Homo sapiens: one gene and its partners. The protein of the gene in region 1 purifies or fractionates together with the protein of each later gene. This does not show direct contact. Each region holds a gene or a part of one and is shown on either strand. Other genes may lie near its edges.

The links. The genes of interacting proteins can lie anywhere in the genome.
Region 2: the proteins of INAVA (region 1) and CEP170 purify together in Homo sapiens (co-immunoprecipitation; 4 studies listed by BioGRID and IntAct, with this or other methods). This does not show direct contact.
Region 3: the proteins of INAVA (region 1) and DCAF8 purify together in Homo sapiens (affinity purification with mass spectrometry; 2 studies listed by BioGRID and IntAct, with this or other methods). This does not show direct contact.

The regions. Positions count from the first base shown.
Region 1 is NC_000001.11:200,897,890-200,904,911, forward strand, and holds part of INAVA (innate immunity activator protein), read left to right. Parts: intron 1-417; coding exon of another isoform or gene 418-511; coding exon 512-566; intron 567-1,583; coding exon 1,584-1,708; intron 1,709-2,214; coding exon 2,215-2,331; intron 2,332-3,047; coding exon 3,048-3,270; intron 3,271-7,022. UniProt on the Homo sapiens protein: Expressed in peripheral macrophages and intestinal myeloid-derived cells, is required for optimal PRR (pattern recognition receptor)-induced signaling, cytokine secretion, and bacterial clearance.
Region 2 is NC_000001.11:243,252,268-243,259,663, forward strand, and holds the start of CEP170 (centrosomal protein of 170 kDa), read right to left. Parts: upstream 3,015-7,396; 5' UTR 2,773-3,014; exon of another isoform or gene 835-2,772; intron 1-834. Other genes in the region: SDCCAG8 (serologically defined colon cancer antigen 8), read left to right, coding at 3,907-3,973.
Region 3 is NC_000001.11:160,259,536-160,267,198, forward strand, and holds the start of DCAF8 (DDB1- and CUL4-associated factor 8), read right to left. Parts: upstream 3,015-7,663; 5' UTR 2,914-3,014; exon of another isoform or gene 2,582-2,913; intron 2,388-2,581; exon of another isoform or gene 2,214-2,387; intron 1,824-2,213; 5' UTR 1,750-1,823; intron 1-1,749. UniProt on the Homo sapiens protein: May function as a substrate receptor for CUL4-DDB1 E3 ubiquitin-protein ligase complex.

The DNA.
Region 1 (7,022 bases):
GGGATTACAGGCGTGAGCCACCATGCTGGGCTTCCTTCCTCCTTTCTTTGTTATCCCATCCCATTTTTTGTCCCCTTCCTTTTTATCCTGTCTCTGCTCTTTTCCTTCTTGCCCTTCTCCCCAGTCGAGCGGTTCTTGTGGCTACCACAGCTGTCGACCCCCTTAGGCCTAGAGGACTTTGGCCCAGAGGGGAGTTAGGCTGGGCCCCTGAGAGCCCACTGAGAACAGGGTTTGCTGGTGAGGCCCACAGCCCCTTCTCTAGGTCAGCACCCCCAGTGCCAGAATCTCCTGCCCCAGATGGTTCCTGAAGCACAGTCCTCCCTTCCACTCCCCTGCTCTCAAGCATCTATTCAGCTTTTTGTAACCAAGATGGTTCATATCTAGCTTTTTTGTTATTGTTCTCTTTTCTCTTTAAAGCTGGGGAAGCTCCAGGCTACCTACACAACCTGGCCCAGGCTGGTCACGGTGTCCCCCCTCCCTGCTCTGTGCCCTCTCCTTCCAGAAATCCACCATGGAGAGTAAGGATGAGGTCAGCGACACCGACAGTGGCATCATCCTGCAGTCTGGTGAGTGTTCAGGGAAATCCCCCTGCCCTAGTCCCTAGTCCCTGGTCCCTGGTCCCTGGCCCTGACTCCTGAGTCCTGAGCCCTCAGGCACTAGGGCTGGCTGGGCTGAGACTCCCAAGGGCTGAGAGGAAGGGGAGGGAGAGGCCTCTGCTGGGAGGAGGGGGAGGTTCTGGAAGGGCTGGAGCCTCAGGGACATGTGGAGTTTTCCTCCCTGGAGAAAACTGGCTTGGAGTTTTGGTTCTATCTGGAAGAGGGATCTGCAATGTTCAACTTTAGCCCCAGCTGAGAAGTTGAAAAATCTCAGGCAGGCACAGTGGCTCATGCCTGTAATCCCAGCACTTTGGGAGGCCAAGGTGGGCGGATCACAAGGTCAGGAGATCGAGACCATCCTGGCTACCACATAGTCCCAGCTATGTGGGAGGCTGAGGCAGAAGAATCGTTTGAACCTGGGAGGCGGAGGTTGCAGTGAGCCGAGATCGCGGCATTGCACTCCAGCCTGGGCGACAGGGCAAGACTCCGTCTCAAAAAAAATATATCATCTGGCCAATGTGAAGGTCTTGCCTCTCTGTTTGGCCAGACCTGTGGGCCTAGTCTGGCCTAGTCTTGACAGAGGACAAGAAAGAAGAGGCTTATGTGTGTGTGCAAGAGAGAGGGGTAGTGGGGAGAGGGAGAGAGAGAGACAGGAAGAAGAAGGAGAAGGAAAAGAGGAAGAAGAAGGGAGGAGGAGTGGGGGGAGGACTGCACCGGCAGAACTCCCTCCCCTGCACTCCCCCACCATAGGTCACCTGGTGGGACGACCCTCCCTTCTGAGTTGTAACATTTGTGCAGCCAAGAGACGTGGTGTTTTGTGGCTGTGACACAGGCCACAGCAGCCAGCCTGCAATTTGTGGGCAGGCATGAGATGTGTGTGTGTGTGTGCATGTGTGTGCATGTGCATTCCCCTAGGGGTGGTCAATAAGTAACGGAGGAGGCTTCCATCTTCAGCCTCCCTGAGCATGTGCCCCCCAACCCTTGCAGGCCCCGACAGCCCGGTCTCCCCAATGAAGGAGCTGACCCATGCAGTGCACAAGCAGCAGAGGGCCCTGGAAGCGAGGCTGGAGGCCTGCCTGGAGGAGCTGAGGAGACTCTGCCTTCGGGAAGCGGTGAGGCCCCAGCCAGCACACACAAGCATCGGGTTCATCTCAGGAGCTGTGGAGCCACGTGTGGGGATGCGGGAGCTGGGGAGAGGGAGCCCCATTCTTGAGGGAATTCTGGACATCAGGCTGGGGGCTGGGGCCCAGAGTCCCCATGATGCAGTGTTTGACCTTGTGCTGGATGGAGAAGAGTCAGACCCAGGCAGGGGCCCAGGCACAGAGAACAAAGTTCATCAGGGGCTGCAGAGGGACTGCACAGACATAAGTGCATATGAGTGCTGTAACCCGGGTCGGTGTAGCTCTGGAGGAAGTGATCAGAAAGAGGTCTGAAGGGAAAGGGGAGGAGTGCAGAGTGGGTCTGAAGACAGGAGAGACAGTGTGGAGGATGGGATGAGGTGGGGTGGAGGGTGGTCCCACCAGGGCTTCTATGGAAGGCAGGCACATGCAGTGCAGGGGCCAGTGAGCCAAGTCTGGGCAGGTGGAGAGGACCTGGCTGGTCTCTGCTTCCTCCCCAGGAGCTGACGGGCACCTTGCCAGCGGAGTATCCCCTCAAACCAGGGGAAAAGGCCCCCAAGGTTCGCCGCAGGATCGGAGCGGCTTACAAACTGGATGACTGGGCCTTGCACAGAGAGGTGAGGAACCTCAGGAAGCTGCCAGTACCCCTCGATCCCCAAAGCTGATCACTGAGACGCCACACCTCAGCTCAGTACCCTGGCAGGTTCCCTTCCACCCTTTCACACCCAGTGAGGGTGCTTGGCTGCCTGTTGGTGAGAGACACCATGAATATGTAGCCCAAATGGCTGTGGAGAAGGGGCGCCACTAAGGAACCGAGAGCTGGGAGCTCAAGGGAGGACACTGGGTTTGACCCCATTGGGCAGAAGATCAGTTAAGAGCACCAGCCACCAACCCAGCGGGCAATAGCCTGCTCAGACAGGTTACTCTGGCCCCTAGGGCTGTCCTCCTTTCTCAGGAGGAGGTGGGGGCAGTCAGGCCCTGGGTGCCCTTCCCCTGTGGCGTCAATGGCAGCAGTTTCCCATGGGCCAGCCTGCCCCACCCTTTGGGGTCAGGAGGGAAAGTGTCCCACTTGGGTTCCCACCCTGCCCGGTTCAGCAGGTGGGCTGGTGGGTGGGTGCCCATGCCAGCTTTTCAGGCTGACAAGTTTGCTTTTCGGCTCCTCCCACTCCTTCACCCTCTGCTCCACGTCCGTCCATTGGTGCTGCTGTCTGCCTCTCTTCTGTCCTCAGGGCTTAGGACTGGGACCTAGAGCACTGTGTCAGGGCTGCTGTCCACCCTCTGGGCCCCCAATCTCCCTGCCTCTCTCTAGCCTCACTCCTGCCCCCTCTCTCAGGACCCCCTAAGCAGCCTGGAGCGCCAGCTGGCCCTGCAGCTGCAGATCACAGAGGCAGCCCGTCGGCTGTGCCTGGAGGAGAACCTCAGCAGGCAGGCTCGGCGGCAGCGGAAGCACTCCATGCTGCAGGAGGAGAAGAAGCTGCAGGAGCTCCAGCGCTGCCTGGTCGAGCGGCGGCGCAATAGCGAGCCACCTCCGGCTGCTGCTCTCCCCCTGGGCCGAGGTGAGCCGGCTGCCCTGAGGGGGGCCATGCTCCTTAAATGAGCTTTTGAGGGATGGTGGGCGCACAGCCCCGTGCCACTGCCTTTGCATTTGGCTCCAGCTGGGTAAAGCTGATTCTTGGGTTCAGCTCCACCCCATCCTGATTCTCTCCAACTCCAGCAAGGCTTCCCCATCCTGTGAGGTCTTCTTCTCCGTCTCCTTAGAAAACACCCTACTCTCTCCTTCCGTATCCTCCTCAAAATACACTACCTTCAAGAGACTTCCTACACAGAGATATTTCTCAGCTGACCCTGAGCTGAATCCAAGGTGTATTCAACTGGGTAGCCCAGGCTGGCCCCGCTGCCCTCCAGGCCCACAGGGTGATGGCATCTCTGGGTCAGGGTAGTGTGAGGCTCCCGTGAGCCCAAGGCTCTGAGTTGATGTGTAGTCCCCTGGCCTGAGTTAGGCAGCAAAGGGTTTGACGATTGCTATGTGTTACTGATCACTGAATTGTTTCAGGGGCCCACAGCTACTTAGGAGATGTTCAGGTTGAAATCCAGCAGGACTGGTGCCACACCCCACAGCCCCTTAAGTATCTACAACCACCCTGGTCAAGGGTGGGATCCTTCCATGTCTGTTCTCTGCCCTCCTTGTGTCTGTAGTTCAATCCCTGAGCTCCTTGGCCCAGAGACTAGTGGCCGTGGGGGCACCTAGTGAGTTGTTGATGCCCAGGTGCTGCCACATCACATCAGTGTGTCCACCACAGGTTAGCTTCCAACAGGTGGTTCTGAGCCCTTAGGTGTGACTGTTTTCCTTTGTCCTGACCCAAGGCCAGCCTGTCAGGTCAGGACTTGCATCTCTCCATTCCAAACCCCACCGCAGCAGGCCCATGACTCAGCTCTGCCCCCCGTCTCTCACATGGGACCCAGACCTCCCTGGCTGCCTCAGAGGGAACCGGGAGGGAATGAGGCCGTGGCCCTGCAAAAAAAAATCCAGAATTGGATTCAGAGGTCTCGGCCTTCATTCACATTCTCAGGCTCCCATCCCTGCATATCGTGTTGGCTTTTTGCCAAGACTACTCCTCAGCCTGGGAGCAGTCATGGGGAAGCTGGAAAGCCCTTGCTAGTCCCTGTGCCCTGCAGCCTATGCCTCAGGCAGGGAGTTATCTCAGCACAGGTCTCAGAAGTCCCTGCTCCTATCCATGGCTTTTAATTTAGGGTAGAAAGTGCATGACCAGACACCACCCAGGTCACCTCCCGCAGCCAAGAGTAGGTGATAAAGGAGGAGGTGCCTCCATGTGACAGTTAACCCAGTAAACTCAGAAGACAGTGGGGCTGACCCAGGGAAAATGGCCAGACCTCTGTCCGGTTCCAGTGGTTCTGGCTTGGCCGCAGAACAACACTCCCAGTCTCTGAGGCTCTAATGGAAGACAAGTTCTACAACCTTACTCCACTCTCAACAGGGATCCCAGGACTTGACAGCAACCTTGAAAGGTAGCTGCTGAATTGGACATGGAAGCCCCTAAGGGCCAACTTGCTCTGTGCCTGCAGGGAGAGGTCAGGGTGGTGAGATATGCCCGTTGGTTGCAGCGCCTCCTGCTCCCCGGTCCAGCCTCACACTGCTCAGCAGCCTCCCCTGCCCACCGGGGCTGCCATTGCTGGGAGCTTCTGCCCATGATGGGTGGCAGGGGAGTGTCACCCTGATGCTGCCATTGTGACCCATAATGCTTCTTGTTGGGAGTCGGGAGCAGGCCAGGACTGGCCTGGGGCTCTGTGGAAGGCAGGAGGATGAGGTTCTGAAACCTTGGAGCCCTCAGTACAGGTGAAGACAGAGCTGTGGAGAGGAGACAACTGGTGTAGTTGCTGACTTTCCCACATCAGGAATCAAGATCCCACTGGCCAACTTCAGGCCCTGGGATCTAAAGTCCTGTTGTGAGAGCACAGAAGGGATCAGTTCTAGACAAGTAATTTCTGTTTTGTGGCTCCTCTGCCCAGCCGAGCCCTCCTAGAAAGGAGGAAGTAAAGCAGAATTATTAGTAGCTGAGGTGTTTTGAATTAAAAAGGGAAGGCCGGACACTGTGGCTCATGCCTGTAATCCCAATACTTTTGGAAGCCAAGGTGGGCGGATCATGAGGTTAGGAGTTCAAGACCAGCCTGGCCAACATAGTGAAACCCCATCTCTACTAAAAATACAAAAATTAGCCAGACATGGTGGTGCATGTCTGTAGTCCCAGCTACTCGGGAGGCTGAGCCAGGAGAATCCCTTGAACCTGGGAGGTGGAGCCCAGGATCAAGGGAGCCGAGATCGTGCCACTGCACTCCAGCCTGGCAACAGAGTGAGACTTTGTCTCAAAAACAAAAAACAAAACAAAACAAAAAAACAGGAGGCCAGGTGCAGTGGCTCACACCTGTAATCCCAGCACTTTGGGAGGCCGAGGCGGGTGGATCACTTGAGGTCGGGAGTTCAAGACCAGTCTGACCAACATGGAGAAACCCCATCTCTACTAAAAATACAAAATTAGCCAGGCATGGTGGCGCATGCCTGTAATCCCAGCTACTCGGGAGGCTAAGGCAGGATAATCACTTGAACCCAGGAGGCGGAGGTTGCGGTGAGCCGAGATTGCACCATTGCACTCCAGCCTGGTGACAAGAGCGAAACTCTGTCTCAAAAAAAAAAAAAAAAAAAAGGGAAAAAAGCAAACAACCCAAAAACCGAAATAAAAAACCACCCTGCCCCCTTGGGCTCCATACAAGGGTAATTTAGTTTGGGAAAGTAACTGCTAGGTGAGAGTCATCAGCCATACTTTGCAGTGGCAGGGAGCAGTCAGGTGTTGAGCTCATTTACTAGAGTGAACCGCATGAGGGCCACCCAGCACCCACCTGTGCAATGTAATAGGCACTCTGGATGCATCTGTTGATCAACAACACCAGCCATTAGCCACATCCTCATAACATTTTTTTTTTTTTTTTGAGACGGAGTCTTGCTCTCTCATCCAGGCTGGAGTGCAGTGGAGCCATCTCAGCTCACTGCAACCTCCACCTACCGGGTTTAAGCGATTCTCCTGCCTCAGCCTCCTGAGTAGCTGGGACTGCAGATGCGTGCTGCCACGCCCAGCTAATTTTTGTATTTTTAGTAGAGATGGGGTTTCACCAAATTGTCCAAGCTAGTCTCGAACTCCTGACCTCAAGGGATCCTCCCGCCTTGGCCTCCCAAGTGGTGGGATTACAGGCGTGAGCCACTGCGCCTGGCCGCTCATAGCATTTCTGAGATGGTGGAAGTGTTCTGTATCTGTGCTGTCCAATACAGTAGCCACTCGCTGCATGTGGCTATGGAGCATTTGAACTGTGCCTAGTGTGACTGAGGAACTGACTTTATTTAGTTTTAATGAAAATAGCCACATGCGGCTAGTGGCAACTGTGTTGGACAGCATAGCCTTGGGGGAAGCTCAGCATTTGTGAGTAAAATCTCCACCGTTACCCCTCTGTCTGGGGTGTCCTGCGATGCTGCTGCGGGGCAGGGGAACGCTGAGCTAGGGCAGGGTTGGGACAGTTGCTGAGATAGTGAGCAGCTCTCAGAAACCTGAATCTTTTTTTTTTTTTTTCCAATCTTTTTAGAGACAGGGTCTTGTTCTGTTGCTCAGGCTGGAGTGCAGTAGTGTGATCATACCTCACTGCAGCCTTGAACTCCTGGGCTCAAGTGATCTTCCTTCCTCAGCCTCTAGTAGCTGGGACTACAGTCATGTGCCACCACACCCAGCAAATTAAAACAAAACAA
Region 2 (7,396 bases), about 42 Mb from region 1:
GATACTTAGTTGAAGAGTACACTGCTTAACATCCCAGTGTTTGGGACAGATAAGAAAGAAAAGTCTTTACCTATTAATTAGTATAGAAAAAATATTTTTCAGGAATACAATTTTGTGGAATAAAAAACATTTTGACAAAAAAGCTTAAGCATATACAATATTTAGTACTAGATGAGCATTATCTAATTGCAATCAGATACAATAATAAAACTAGTTCTTTTTTTCAGTAGATAAAAAGGAACAAGAAACTGATACTTGGAACAAATCAAATAAATCACGAAGCACAGAATTTTAAAAAGTACCATAACAGCATTAATATGCAGAATGTATGCTAAGGTTTACAGTATAAATTTCACTATTCTAATGTTAAAATAGGGAACAGGCAGATTATTTCCATACAAAATAATCTCAGAACACAATGAAATTTACCAGTAAAATACATTTAAAGCATGATTGAATATAATCCCACATACTGAAATTTAGTTACAGATTTTTAAAGTTGAAATTTAAGATAAATAATAAATCCTTTAAAGAAGTCTATTAAAATGCAACGTAAAATTAAACGATTAAAATTATAAGGGAAGAAAAAAGCACTTTATGGCAAAATCAACCCAATAAAAAACATAAAGTTAATATATCTTAAAATGTAAATTCTAGTTTAAGTTAAAAGTAATCACTAATAACTCATTAATGATTACAACTCATTAACTGTGGCAAAATAAACATCATAGGTTCTTGTTATGCGGAAATTTTATTTTTAACACAGCCTATAGAGTTGATCATCATACTATTATAAAATACTATTGATTTTCAAGAAATAATATTAAAACCTACCGTTAAGTAGCTACCATTAGGTAGTAGGGAAAACACTGCAACACTTCGTTTTTATGAAAAGCACATGTTAGGACATCTTTCCTCATGTAGTAAGTTACTTTATGAAAGTAAAGGTCCATTTTAGGAGGATTACTACTTTTACATCACAAAGGCAAGAACTAGATTAATCACGGTGAGAATCAAGTTCAGTGATAGTCACAGCCTACTCAGGGAGCACATAGAGAAGCTTTCCATACATTTTCACAAGGTAAAAGGGCTAGGGGGACACAGGAAAGATCACTCTGCAGAATGGACCTTGAGTTTCGTTTGGCTCTGCCTTCGATTAACTGTCTGGCTTGGGCAGACAAGTCAGTTAACTTTCTGAGTTTTAGTGTCTTCCTCTGTCAAGTGCACTTGGGCTCTTCCGTGTTATCTACAAAGTTAGGAAGAGCTAAAGGCAGCCCTAGTTTTACTTTTTAAAAAATAATAACAGAAAAATACATAAGTTGCTATTCATCAGTGTACTGTTTCCAGAGCTGAATTCCTAAGTCTCTGAAGCATACCCAGTTAGGGTTATACCAGTGAAGATCCAGATACTATAGTCATAATGTCACTCTCTCCTCTCCCATTATTCCTCCACCTGCTCCTCCCCATCCTGCTTTATTCTCTCTTCTGGTGTGTTTTAAGAAGCAACGCCAGCAAACGGCTGCATACATTGTAAGCTTAAGGATTAAATCATTTTAAAATATGCATTTTCAATCAAATGTATCATCTGCTTCGCCAAATTCCTCCCAAATGGCTGAATTTTCATTAAGAGAATAAAAATGAGTTAACAACTTCGGTAACAGAAATGTACTGGGCCAGTTGTTTTGTTTGTTTTACTTGCTTAAAAAATAAACGGAAAGATGTATCCATTCCCTCAGGAACATAAATGCATTACCTGCCCAATGAAAAAACAATTCTGCTTGTTCATTTCCCTGACACAACAGCTTCGTTGTCAGGCCCTCTCTAGCCCAGGCTCCAACGTCACCTAGTAATTTTATATTGATCACCTTGGCAGTGCTTGGACTCCAGCAGGCATAGTCCCTGTCTTCCTTACATTCCTCAAAATAAATAAATAAATAAATAAATAAATAAATAAAACTCTACGAAACACCACCGAACAGAGATTCTGTGACTTAGTATACAAATCCCACGTCTTCCCGCCCTGTGTTAGGCAGCTGCAAATGTTATTTTTTCATCGCTTGCATAAAATGGAAGCGAAACGTACCAAAACCCTACATCTGAATCCTAGGACAATGAAGCCGACAGGAAGCCACTCTCTCCTCCCCCGGGTTTACTACAGAGCCAGAGCCTCCACGGGGTGCAGTCGCCAGGCAGGGTGCATGACACCGCGTCTTCCACGCCCTCCCAACGCGTCCAAAAGGTTGCTCGCCTGACCTCGCCAACCGCCTCACACCCCAAAACCAATCACACAAAAGGGATTGGCCCGGGGAGCTGCTCCAATGGGGGAAAAATCCCTTCCCCAGCGGCAGCGCAGCCATTCCCTCCAATGCTCCGCCCGCACCCCTCGCAAACTGCTACGGCGGAGGGGGGAGGGCTGCACAAAGCCAGTCGAAAGCTGAAAATGATTCAATGCACTTAGGGGATGCGGAGGCGGCAGCAAGGGGCTCGGGAAAGCCGGGGGGCCGCAGGACTGGAGCTCCGGGGGGCGGCGGGTGGGGGATGGGAAGGGTGGTCCCGTCAAGCCCCGGGTCCCAGGCGGGCAGAGGGTGGGGGTGGCGGCGCCGCGCGGAGCACCCGGGAAGCGCCCCCTTCGCGGTCCAGCCCCGCACCCCCGCCCCGCGGCGGGCGGCGCCCGAGTCCTCGCCGCAAACCCGAGGAGCAGGATGTGGAAAGCAGCCGCGGCGGTGGCTGCGGCTGCGGCGCCTACACCGAGCAGCCGATCGCATCACTTACCCCTTACCGTGGAGAGAGGGACCGGACGGGGGAGGCGGGGCGCGTCGCGTCCCGTGAGTCTCTCGCACGCCGTCCTCCCCCCACCTCGTCGTCGTCGTCGTCGCCGCTGTTGTCGTCGCTGCCGCTGCGGTCGAGCTCCGGGGCCCTCAGCTCCGCTGGGCAATAACGTTATTCCACACACGCCCCACACATAGCGGTAACGGCAAAGACCGACTGCCTAGTGCGCAGGCGCCTCGGGAAAGGGCGAGGAGCCGGACCCTATCCCCTCCTGCCCAGTTCCAACGATCCCTTACTGCGCAGGCGCCACACACAGACAATGAAAAGGGGTTGTGCGAGGGTCTCACCCACACGCTTTTCCAGCTTGCCCACTGCGCAGGCGTGCCCCGAAAGACCAGCTTGAACAATGAAGAGGACCTCGGCGTTAGGTGGGACCGCAACCAACAAGGACTACAGTTCCCAGCGGGCAGAGCGCCAACTCCAAGTGAAGGTCCGGTTGCTGGGCATGCTAGGAGTTGTAGTGTCGGCCGCCTTTACAATCTAGGCTGTTTGGAAGATTTAGAGCTTCTATTTCTTGAAGATTTATTCGACCGTTTTAAAAAATCTCGCAACTGAAGCAGGGTTCAGAGTTTACTATCTGCGTCCTTGAGTAGCCTGGGGATCAACTGCTGCATATTAGCAAATTTCGAAGCGTCAAGGCCTTCAGTGAGCCCTTTCTGTCATTTGGGTGGTCCAGGCAGCTGAAGAGTGGGATGGAGGCGGGACTAAACCAGGCTGGGCTGGAGGAAAAGGGCGGGGCCTGCAAGCCTGTCTCTTGGCAGCAGGCTCTGGCAGCCAAACCGTCCAAGCTAGCGCCTGGAGCGCAGTGGTTTCTGGGAATTGTAGTGTAACTGGAAGGCCCTGAGGATTGTCGAGCTTGCAGGTTCTGAACGTGAGGACTACAACTCCCGACGTGCAAAGCGAGGGCCAGTGGGTGGGAAGAGCCCCCAAGAGCTCTGTGCGGGATTCTAGGCTCCCCTGTGACAGCCGCGGCAGGAAGCAGGCGGGCGCTCCCCGGCCACAGGCCTGTTGTTCTCGGAAGGGAGAAAGCTGGACATTTCCCCACGTAACTCCCAGCTCTGGGCCTAGAGTGCGTGCATGGCGAAGTCCCCGGAGAACTCTACCCTGGAGGAGATTCTGGGGCAGTATCAACGGAGTCTCCGGGGTGAGTTGCTCCAAACCTCTGTCCCTAGCCCCGAGGTGCCCAGGGCCTAGTGGGCGGGAGCAGACCAGGTGCGTTTCCTAACACCTGGGTTCTGCCCCGTCCACGCTACAGAGGAGCAAGATGGATGTTGCTGTGGTCTTGAGGAGGATGAAATAGTTTGATTTAGTTTTTACAGTTAAGCAACGATGTTTCCTCAGATTCCCGTAGTTACCTCAATCAACTCCTTGATCTTAACTTGGCATCTTTCTCAACCGGCGACAGCAGAAACTCTTGGATAGCTCTATGCCATTTTTGTTCAGTTCCCATACGTTGCTATTTAATCCAATAAAAGTCTGATTCACAGTTTTTACACATTTAAATTATGGCACAGTGGATTGAATGTGATTTATGGGATCAGTGGGGGGAAACACTAATAATTATTTTAATCACAAGAGCCCCCTTTTAATTGATTTAGGCTATTTACATACAGTAAATCATCTGCAGCTTACACCAATCGTGTGAATATTTTACACATGGGGAAAGCGAAGCTCAGAGAGGTTGAATTACAGGCCAGAGCCCACACAGCTGGTTAGTTGCAGAGCCAGGTATTATCAGGCTTGCCTTCAAAGCCTATGTTTGTATTTACTAATCAAGCCATAATTACTATTATCAAAACCTTATTAATTTAGATTTTCTTACCACATTACCATATGAGCAAGTATCTGTACAAATAATGTCTGTATTTATTTTCCTTTAAGCTCTGTTGGACTTAATGTCTGTACTTTTAGATGGCGCTGTCAACTTGGACAGCATATATAACATCTAGAAATTTCGATTCTGTTATAATGGAAGTTATGGAATTGTCCATAGGGTTATTGTGGGGAGCAAATGAAATAATCCCCATAAAGCAGTGATTTTAAGACTTCTTAAAATGTTTACCTATAGTAAGAAATAAATTTTATATGGGACATATGTGTACATATAAACTATAAGTTTCACTGAAGAATTTTTATTCTACTAAATGTAATAAACTCTGCTTTCTATTCTGTTGCATTTTCATAAGCCTCTAGGTCATGACTGTTTGCGACATTGAGAATACTAAGTTATGAAGCATGTGTTGTTCTGCATAATATGCCTACTATGTGTCAGTGCCTCCTACTATGTGTTAAGCATACTAGGTGCTAGGCATGCAGTAAGGAACAAGACAAAGTTCCTATCCCCATGGAGCTTCTGGATTAGTTGGGGAGAAAGACAAAAAAAAAAAATAATTATAGATTACTATGATAGAAAGTAAGGGTAAAGATCAGTGCTTACTAGACAAGCACTCATTAAATGTTAATTGTTATTTATACTTGTTACTTAAAGCAAAGTGAAGGTTTTTCAATATTAGAAAGTTTATCTTCTCATGACTCTAGATTTTATAAGGGTTACTATGTATTGTTACATCTGTCAATTGTGTTAACAAACTGTCGACATTCTCAGTATTCAAACTGCAGGAGTAAAAAAATCGGTTTTAATGAACACCTTCCTCAACCTACTGATGTTTCAAGAGCTGTTAGATACAAAATAAGCACTTCTAACTTTTCATTTGGAAGCAAGAAAAATACTGTGCACAATGATATGAGTAATTGTAATTTTTAAGATTGGCAAAAATTTTTTGTTTTCATTGAAAGTTTTTCCTGATGCTTCTCTTCCTTTGACCTTATTTTAAGTCTTTATATAATTGTCGGAGGCTGTTTAACATTAGGCATTTTGACGCAGTAAAGGGGTTCATTTTAAATTAATGTTATAGTAATATGTTTAATACTAGTGGTACTGCTTTCAATAATTACAGAATGAAGGGTTTTCATTTAAGGATAATACATTTTAAAATTAGTTTGAAATAAAATTTAAATTTAGTGTGATAACAATATAAGGTAGTGGAAACATTTCACCAAGAGCAAATACGAAGGATAGAAAAAGTTAAACAACTTAAAAAAAAACGTATTCATAATTTTAACAGTGAATCAGGAAATGTAACCTGAAATGTTTATGGGTTTTTCAGGACATATCATTTATTTAGTAGCACTTTTATTTTTGTATGTTAGCTTATATAACAGCTTCTGGAAGGAAACAAAACAGAATTAACTCTGAACTTAAGTACAGTCAGAAGTTCTTCACAAATATAAATTGCTATTTTTGAGTAGTATAATTTATTTATTTAGAGATGGAGTCTCACTCTGTCATCCAGGCTGAAATGCAGTGGTGCCATCTCGGCTCACTGCAGCCTCTGCCTCCTGGATTCAAGCAACTCTCCAGCCTCAGCCTCCCAAGTAGCTGGGATTACAGGCACGCGCCACCATGCCCGGCTAATTTTTGTATTTTTAGTAGAGACTGGGTTTCGCCATGTTGGTCAGGCTGCTCTAGAACTCCTGACCTTAAGTGATCCGCCCACTTCAGCCTCCCAAAGTCTGGGGTTATAGGCGTGAGCCACCGCGCCCGGCTGATAATTCCCTTTAAAGTAAAGTATTCTGTTCCTTAATAAACAATGCTGGAGTTATGTGGAAATTCCTTATTTTGAGTGTGCCTAATAATTTAAGAATTGTATTACTATGTAGTAAGATAAAATGCAGTTTAAAGTTCTATGTCTTATTTTGTTTTGGTTTTGTTGGTTTGTTTGGTTTTGTCTACCCACCATTACTTCCCCAAATGCCTTGCGTAGTTTATGATTAATGGAAGCCTAATAAACAGTCTTGGTCTTTCCTCACCGGTTTTTCCTCTAGCTTGTAAATAACTGCACATGTAGTCACTACTAATATCCCTTCATTGATATTCAGCCAGGAAGTGGCCGCATAAAAATGCAAAATGCTTTCCCTATTTTCCGTGATCGTACTTCCATTTTAAAAAGATCTTTTCCTGGGGCCGGGCGTGGTGGCTCACGCCTGTAATCCCAGCACTTTGGGAGGCTGGGGCGGGCGGATCACGAGGTCAGGAGATGGGAGACCAGCCTGGCTAACACGGTGAAACCCCGTCTGTACTAAAAAAAAAAATACAAAAAACTAGCCGGGCGTGGTGGCGGGCGCCTGTAGTCCCAGCTACTCAGGAGGCTGAGGCAGGAGAATGGCATGAACCCAGGAGGTGGAGCTTGCAGTGAGCCGAGATCGCGCCACTGCACTCCAGCCTGGGCGACAGAGCGAGACTCTGTCTCAAAAAACAACAAAAACAAAAACAAAAACAAATTTCCTTATTTCTTTAATGTTGGTACTATTATGGTATATCAAAATTTGAAGTTCTAATGTGAAAACTGAGTCAGCATTTACTTTCTTGTTTTTAAAATGAGGTTGGGCGCGGTGGCTCACGCCTGTAATCCCAGCACTTTGGGAGGCCGAGGCGGGCAGATCACCTGACGTCTGGAGTTCGAGAACAGCCTGAGCAATATGGAGAAACCCTGTCTCTACTAAAAAT
Region 3 (7,663 bases), about 41 Mb from region 1:
AAACAAACAAACAAAAAAAACCTCTTCATTCCTAACTCCCCAGCCCTGATTCACTTTTAAAAAAAGAGACCTTTTCCTCATACAGTTCTTTGATAATTTGTTGATGAGGATCACTGTATAGCCCAACAAGAAGGAAAAAATGTATTCCCTTCATGGCAAAAAAGGAAAGTATAAAGAATAGTTGCAGTAGAAGTAAACAACATTGCAGCAGAGAGGGAAAGAATTACAACACGGCCAACTCTGATCAGGTGTGCTAACAGAGAGTCCAAGATGAAGGAACCAATGAACAAAAAAATTTACTGATGTTTAAGAATACATTTTGAAATATACATACACCAATATCTAATATTCTCTGTCCTCTGGTTATGAACCCCCACCAAGGGTTTCATGTTCAGAAGACAACTCTAGGTGGGCACTTACAAAGGACACGTCTAAGCTGACCAATTAAAAATCAGTTGGGAAAATTAACCAGAAAAATGTGTTCTAAGGCAAAATGTAAAAGAAGCATAAATTAACGTATAACTTATTCAAAGCTGTATCAATGATGTGCAAAAAAAAAAAACCAAAAAACAACATTTTTTGAGTGTGTACCACGTGTTCTTAGATTACTAAGAGCTTTAAATAGATTCCCTATAATACTAACAATGACCCTGGGAGGTAAGTGGTATTATCACACTTTTAGAGTTGTGGAAATTAAGAGTCAGAGAAGTTTAAGTAACTTGCTCAAGGTCACATGGCTAAGAAATATTAGTCTAGTATTTAAACCTTAAAATTAAATTAAAAGTCTGTCCAATCTCTAAAGACTGTACTTTTCTCTTTATATCTTACTGATACACATATACACCATCACTAATAATTTTATTCCAGTCCATGATGAGCATTTTCTAATTCAGTCATCAGATGGAATAAAACTCACCAGTGTCACTCAATATTTTCCTACTACAAATCATAAAGATATTAGGAATTGGCCAGGCCTACCTTCCAGTCACTTAGCTTTTCTGTCACATGCCATGAGCCTCTAGTCTCTGCTACCAGAAACCTGAAAGCCTCACGAAAACTGCATTTATAAGTATGTTCTGACTCCCTTTTTGGCACCAACCCATGCTGCTGAATGCCCAGGATGTTTCTTCTGCTAACCAAGAATTCTTCAGACCAGCTACAAAAGAAAGAGCAGCCACTATTTTTTTTTTTTTTTTACAAAAAATTTCCCACTATATCCTAAAAAGTCGGAATTCTGAAATAGACTGGACTCAGACACCAACTAAAGGCAGCATCACTCATCACTCCCCAGCTTTTAGTCACAAGCAGCTAAATATTCTCCTCTAAATACCAAGGGATGACAACCCGAAGCTGTGAGAGGGGAAGAGACCTGATTTGACAACAGGATGAACAGAACTCAGGCAAACTAAGTTCCAGTTTTTAACAACGTAAAAAATATGATCGACACAAAGACAAAATACAAGGAAAATGAATAAAGAAGAAAAGAAGACATGGGGCAGGGGGCACACATTCACTTCTAGGCTTAAGTCATTTGGAGATACACAGCAATAGTTTAGGACAGAAAGACAAGAAGCCCACAGACAATTAAACTTGTAAAAGTAATTCAACCAGAGCTGGAACAAAGCCAAGAACAACACTCAAGCTCTTTGGGAAACTGGTAGGAATTTTATGACTTTAGTGGTCAGCAGTTGAGCATCAGCGCAGTCTGTCTTGAACTCAAGAATTTTAATGCCTCCAACTCCCACTCACCTTTCCTCCTTTTATCACTGAAGTAAGGCCAGGCTGAGCTCCTGAGAAAATAGGTCTGTAGATTCACTGAAGGACTGAGAAAAGTTAAAATTTACATGGCAAAGGTGTGTCTTCTACTGAACATAATAAAAATATTTATGAATACACTTTAGTATTTTTAGGCCTTCTCAAAACTACTTAAAAGCAGAATACTTTATCTAATTCTAATTACTGAACAAATAACCCACACACATATGGAAATAAAATGAACCAACATGAAGATTAGAAGCCAGGCAAGTAATCTCCCAGCTCCACTAAAACGTAAAGTCATTTAAAAGGATAACCTGAATCTTTTCAACGCTAAACCATAACCAAACAACCTCTCAACAAGAAGCCACAGAGCAGGGGGGGAAATCCCGGAGAGAATGTGATAGCGCTAGTGCCGGTTTGTTTACAGAGACTCCAGTAACAATCATGAGTCAGAAATTCAAGCCACCAGATGCTTTCCAACTAACAGGGACCAAATGGGACCGTTCTAAGATATCCTAAAAGATTTGGGAGTTAGAGGAGGTAAACTAAGATAATTATATTACAAAGGGTACAAGACCACAAGACAACAACCGACTCCGGAATTCTTGGACCTCCGCCTTCCGTACAAGGTGCTGGGCCTGGGAACTTGGGATGGGGGAGGGGGACACATTGCGCGGTGGCCCTGAGGTGACGGGGAGACGCAGGGCGAGCCGTGTCCCTCAATCTAAGGGGAGAAATAGGAGCGCACACATGGGTCACCCAACGAAGCAAGGCGTCCCTGTGAACTGTGCGGCTGGCTCTTGGGGGCAACACCAGGGCTGACCTGAGGAAAGGGCAACCAGTACTCCCAGCGATGACTTCGGGTCGGCGGAAGGAAAAGACCTGAGCGCTAAGAGCTTGGGATACGGGTCAGGCCCATCCTTAGGGGAAACCGGCTGGGAAGCGAGGGGGGGCGCAGGCCGAGCCGGAACGAGACACAGACCGGGTAGGTCAAGGGAGGGGGGGTGTCCGGCTGGGGCAGTTACAAGCACGGGAATCGGCGAGGCTCAGCAGCCCGCTTCCCGTCTTGGGTCATCCTTCTGCTAGCGGCTGCTCCGACTGTTCCAGGCCCAGCCGCCCCGTCCACTGCCACCACCAACGCCGCCGCCATCTTACACTGGCCAGCGGCCGCCACCACCACCGCCTCCGCTCTCTGCGCTTGCGCCTGCGCTGCCACGCTTTCCGGCCCCGTTTGCGACGATGTGCTCGAGAAGACTGAGGGAAGAGTGGTCGCGCGAGCTCACGGCTCGCAACCCTCCTCGAAGGACGCACAAGGGGCGGGGCTTAAGGCCAACGGAAAACAGAGCGAGAGGCGCCTGCGCATTACCGAAGAGGCAAAGTTGTTTTTGTAGTTTCTTCGGGCTTGCTTATCTTGTGATACTCTAAACAAATGCGAGTTAGGGGCTACCCAGAGTTGTGATAGAAATAAACTAAATTTCCAGCGGATTGGCAGGCCACTTCCTGGATGATGGCCAGTTTTGCCGTTTTTGAACACTGGAACGAGCAATGATTGCCACAAGGATTTCTTCTGAAAATCCCCGTTTCCTTTCAGGGCTTTGTTTCCTTAAGTGGTTTCTATACTATCGAGGCCCATTTTCCCCTGAGAGTCCCCATTTACGTATTTTTAAAGAAGGGGCTCAGTAGCTTGAGGTGTAGCTATTCCAGAAGCTCTTTTCTGAAGAGAGGTGGTGTGGGTAAAGGTTCCCAAGAGTGGGCCGGGTGATGTGGGGTGACTTTTGTACTCTGTTTCGTTATGACACCTACAGTAACCCTGCAGAGGATTACTCCCAGCTGCCAGGCTGGGGTATTTTTTTTTTTTTTCTTACCAGAAGCCCAGGGTGCAAAAATCTGACCCTTTCTCACCTCCCCTACCGCTACTCTCCTATTCCAAGTCATTACATATTACTTAAGACTACCGCAATAGAAACTTACCTCGTTTGTCTACTTCCATTATTGCCATTACAGTTAAACATAAGGCAGCCAGAGTGCTTTTTAAAAATGTAAGGTCTGGCCGGGCGCGGTGGCTCATGCCTGTAATCCTAGCACTTTGGGAGGCGGATGTGGGCGGATCACTTGAGGTCAGGAGTTCGAAACTCGTTTGAAACCAGGCCAACATGGTGAAACCCGTCTCTACGAAAAATACAAAAAAAAAAAAAAATTACCCGGCATGGTGGAGCGCGCCTGCAATCCCAGCTACTTGGGAGGCTGAGGCAGGAGAATTGCTTGAACCCGGAGGCGGAGGTTGCAGTGAGCTGAGATCGCACCACTGCACTCCAGGCTGGGCAATGGAATGAGACTCCGTCTCAAAAAAAAAGTAATGTCGTATTATTTCCCCAGTCCCCACCCTGCTCAAAACCTCCAATTCCCATCACATAATAAAAGTCAAAAGTATGATAGCCTTAGAGGCCATCAAAAAATGAATTGCCTCTAAGGAGGACCCTACATGATCTGATCTAGCACCTGCCTATTTATCTGATTCATCTCCTCCCACACTGCCTAGCTCTGCTCTAGCCTCACTAGCCTTACTGTCACTCCAGTCAAAGCATGTCCCAGCCCTAGGGTTTTTTTCCTTTTCTTGGAATGTCCATCTACTAGATATTTACTAGACTTGAGGTGTCTATTGAAATCCTACTTCCTAACACAGGCAGCTCTTGACTATTGTAACTAAAATGGAACCTCATGTCATCCTCCTCTATCCCCTTACTCTGCACTGTTTTTTTAATAACATTTTTTACCTATAACATTTAATCTAAAATTATGTTTGTGATCCAGCTATACTACTAGAATATAAATTCTTGAGGGCAAGGACTGTGTTTTTATCATCTTTGTAATCTCAACACCTAGAAGAGGGCTACAGCACAAAGTAGCTATTTAATGCCCCACCGTCCTATTCATTCTTTCATTCATTCAGTCAACAACTATTGAATTCCTGCTCTGGAAGGCCCTGTTCTATGTGCTGGGGCTGCAACAGTGAATAGAACCAAGATTCTTGCATTCATGGAACTTATTAGTGCAAGGGTTGGGAGCATAGGAGGAGGGGAGAGACACACAGATAATAAAGTTATAAAGAGTACTGTAAAGGAAAATAAAGCAGAATAAAAATGGGTTACCTGGATGGGTGTGCTCTTTTACATAGGGGATTCAGAGAAGGCCCCTCTGCTGAGGTGACATCTAAATAAAGGTTTGAAGTGAGACAATAAGCTATACATACTTGGGAAAGAATATTTCAAGCAGAAGAAACAACAAGGTAAAGACCCTGCAGCTTGAGTGTGCTTGGCAAGGAAGCCACTGTGGCAAAAGAATAGATAGGAACTTAGTTTGGAGAAACAAGATGGGAGCCAGATCACTTACGGACTTATGGACCAAAGAAAGGACTTTGAATTTTATCCTAAGAATGCTAGGAAGCCATGGAGGGTTTTGAGTAGAAGAGTGGCATGATCTGATTTATAATTGAAGATGTTCACTCTGGTTATTCTTTGAGAATTCCCTATAGGGAAGCCAAATAGAAGCTAAAAGACCAGTTAGGAAGCTATTGCAGAAGACCTGCAAAACTAGTGTTGCAATGAAATTGGTAGGATTCAGGATGTACTCTGAAAGTGGTGGAGAGGTGATGTGTTAATAGATTGAATGTGGGGTACAAGATAAAGACAAGAATAAAAAATCAGTAAAAAAGTACAAAAGTCAAAGTACAAAAATCAGTTTGATTTGAGTAACTGGATAAATAGTGATGTCGTTTACTGAGAGCGCATGTGAGGAGACAGGAGCAAGGTTTTTTTTGGCGGGGGGGAATGTCCAATTTTACTTCAAACATATTAAACTGGAGATCCCTATTAGATTTCCGAATGGAGCTACTGAGTAAACAATTGGAAATATGAACCTGGGGCTCATACAAGGGACAATGAGAGGTATAAATTAAGGATTAATTAAGTTATAAATGGCATACATAGCCATGGGGTGGAGAGAAATCAATGTGGAAGCAAAGAGAAGCAGTTTAAAGACTGAGACCTCTAATCCTGAGGCATTCCAACTAATAAAGGTCAGAGAGGAGGAACATACAGCAAAATTTATTTAAAAAGAGTAGCCAGGAAATAGGAAGAATAAAACTCAAAAGTGAGGGGTCTTATAAAACAAACCAAAAAAAAAAAGCTTCAAGAAGGGGCTATAATCTCCATCATTCCTGTCATAAAACAGGTTAAGATAACTGGAAATTGACCATCGGACTTGGAAAATGGAGGATTAGACCATGGCAAGTCATCTTAGTGGAAGCTATAGGGATAGAGGCCTCCCTTTCTATGATCTGCTTTTTGTACCCACTGTTTTGTGGACACCATGGTTATTACCACCAAATCAATAGCTATTACCACTGAATTCTCCCTTTCTTATTTGGGCTTTCCTATTGAATTTGAGGTTGTGATGATTATTATCCCTTGTGTATCCATCTTGTGACAGATACTCAATCCCACTGGTTTCCGTAACACTATATTCCACGGTTTTGTTTTTATCTCTCTAATCATTTATTTAATTAGCTTCTCTTCCCCTTCATTCTACATGTTCTTTCAGTGATTGTATCCATTCTCACATTTAAACTACTGTCCAGGGCCGGGCGCAGTGGGTCACGTCTGTAATTCCAGCACTTTGGAAGGCCAAGGTGGGCAGATTGTTTGAGCTCAGGACCAGCCTGGGCAACATGGCGAAACCTCATCTCTACAAAAAATACAAAAATTAGCAGGGAGTGGTGGTGTGCACCAGCTACTCAGGAGGCTGAGGTAGGAAGATCTCTTGAGCCTGGGAGGCAGAGGTTGCAGTGAACTGAGGTCACACCACTGCACTCCAGCCTGGATGACAGAGTGAGACCCTGTCTCCAAAAAAAAGAAAAACTACCATCCACGTAATGATGACTTCCAAGTCTTTTATTTTTATTTTTTATTTTTTTATTTTTTAGAAACTGATGTTTATTTTCCATCAACCATTTTTCCATGTTGCTTAAGAGCCCATGCAAGAACAGCTTAAGACCATTCAGTGGTTGCTCCTACCCATTCAGTGGCCTGAGCAGTGGGAGCTGCAGACCAGTATTCCGTGGCAGGCTGAGTGCTCCATTGTTCAGTAGGAACTGCTGAATAGGCACAGAGGGCACCTGTATACCTTCAAACCAGTCTGCAACCTCAGGCTGAGTAGCAGTGAACTCAGGAGCTGGAGCAGACCATTCACCCTGAAATTCCTCCTTGGTCACTGCCTTTTCAGCAGCAGCCTGCTCTTCTTTTTCAATCTCTTCAGGATCTCTGTAGAAGCAGAGATCAGGCATGACCTCCCATGGGTGTTCACGGGAAATGGTGCCACGCATGCACAGTACTTCCCGAGCCAGCATCCACCACATCAAACCCACTCAGTGAGCTCCCTTGTTGTTGCACGGGATGGCAATGTCCACATAGCGCAGAGGAGAATCTGTGTTACACAGAGCGATGGTAGGTAGATTAACATAAGATGCCTCTGTGAGAGGCTGATGGTCAGCCCCTGGGGTCAGTAACCATAAGAAGCCATGGCTCCCAGAAGGCTGCCTGGATCTGGTTAGTGAAGGTTCCAGGAGTGAAGTGGCCAGCAATTGGAGTGGCTCCAGTGGCAGCAGCAAACTTCAGCACAGCCCTCTGGCCAGTATTCCTGGAGGATATAACACTGACATCAGCAGGGTTTTCAATGGCAACAATAGCACGAGCTGCCAGCAGAAGCTTCTCCCAGGTTCCCTTCAGATTTATGATGTAGATGCCATCACTTTTCCTTTTATAGATATACTGTTCCATCTGTAAGTCAAGATTGGTGCCACCTAAGTGGGTTCCTGCTGCAAGGAACTTAAGGACATCCTCCTCCTTCA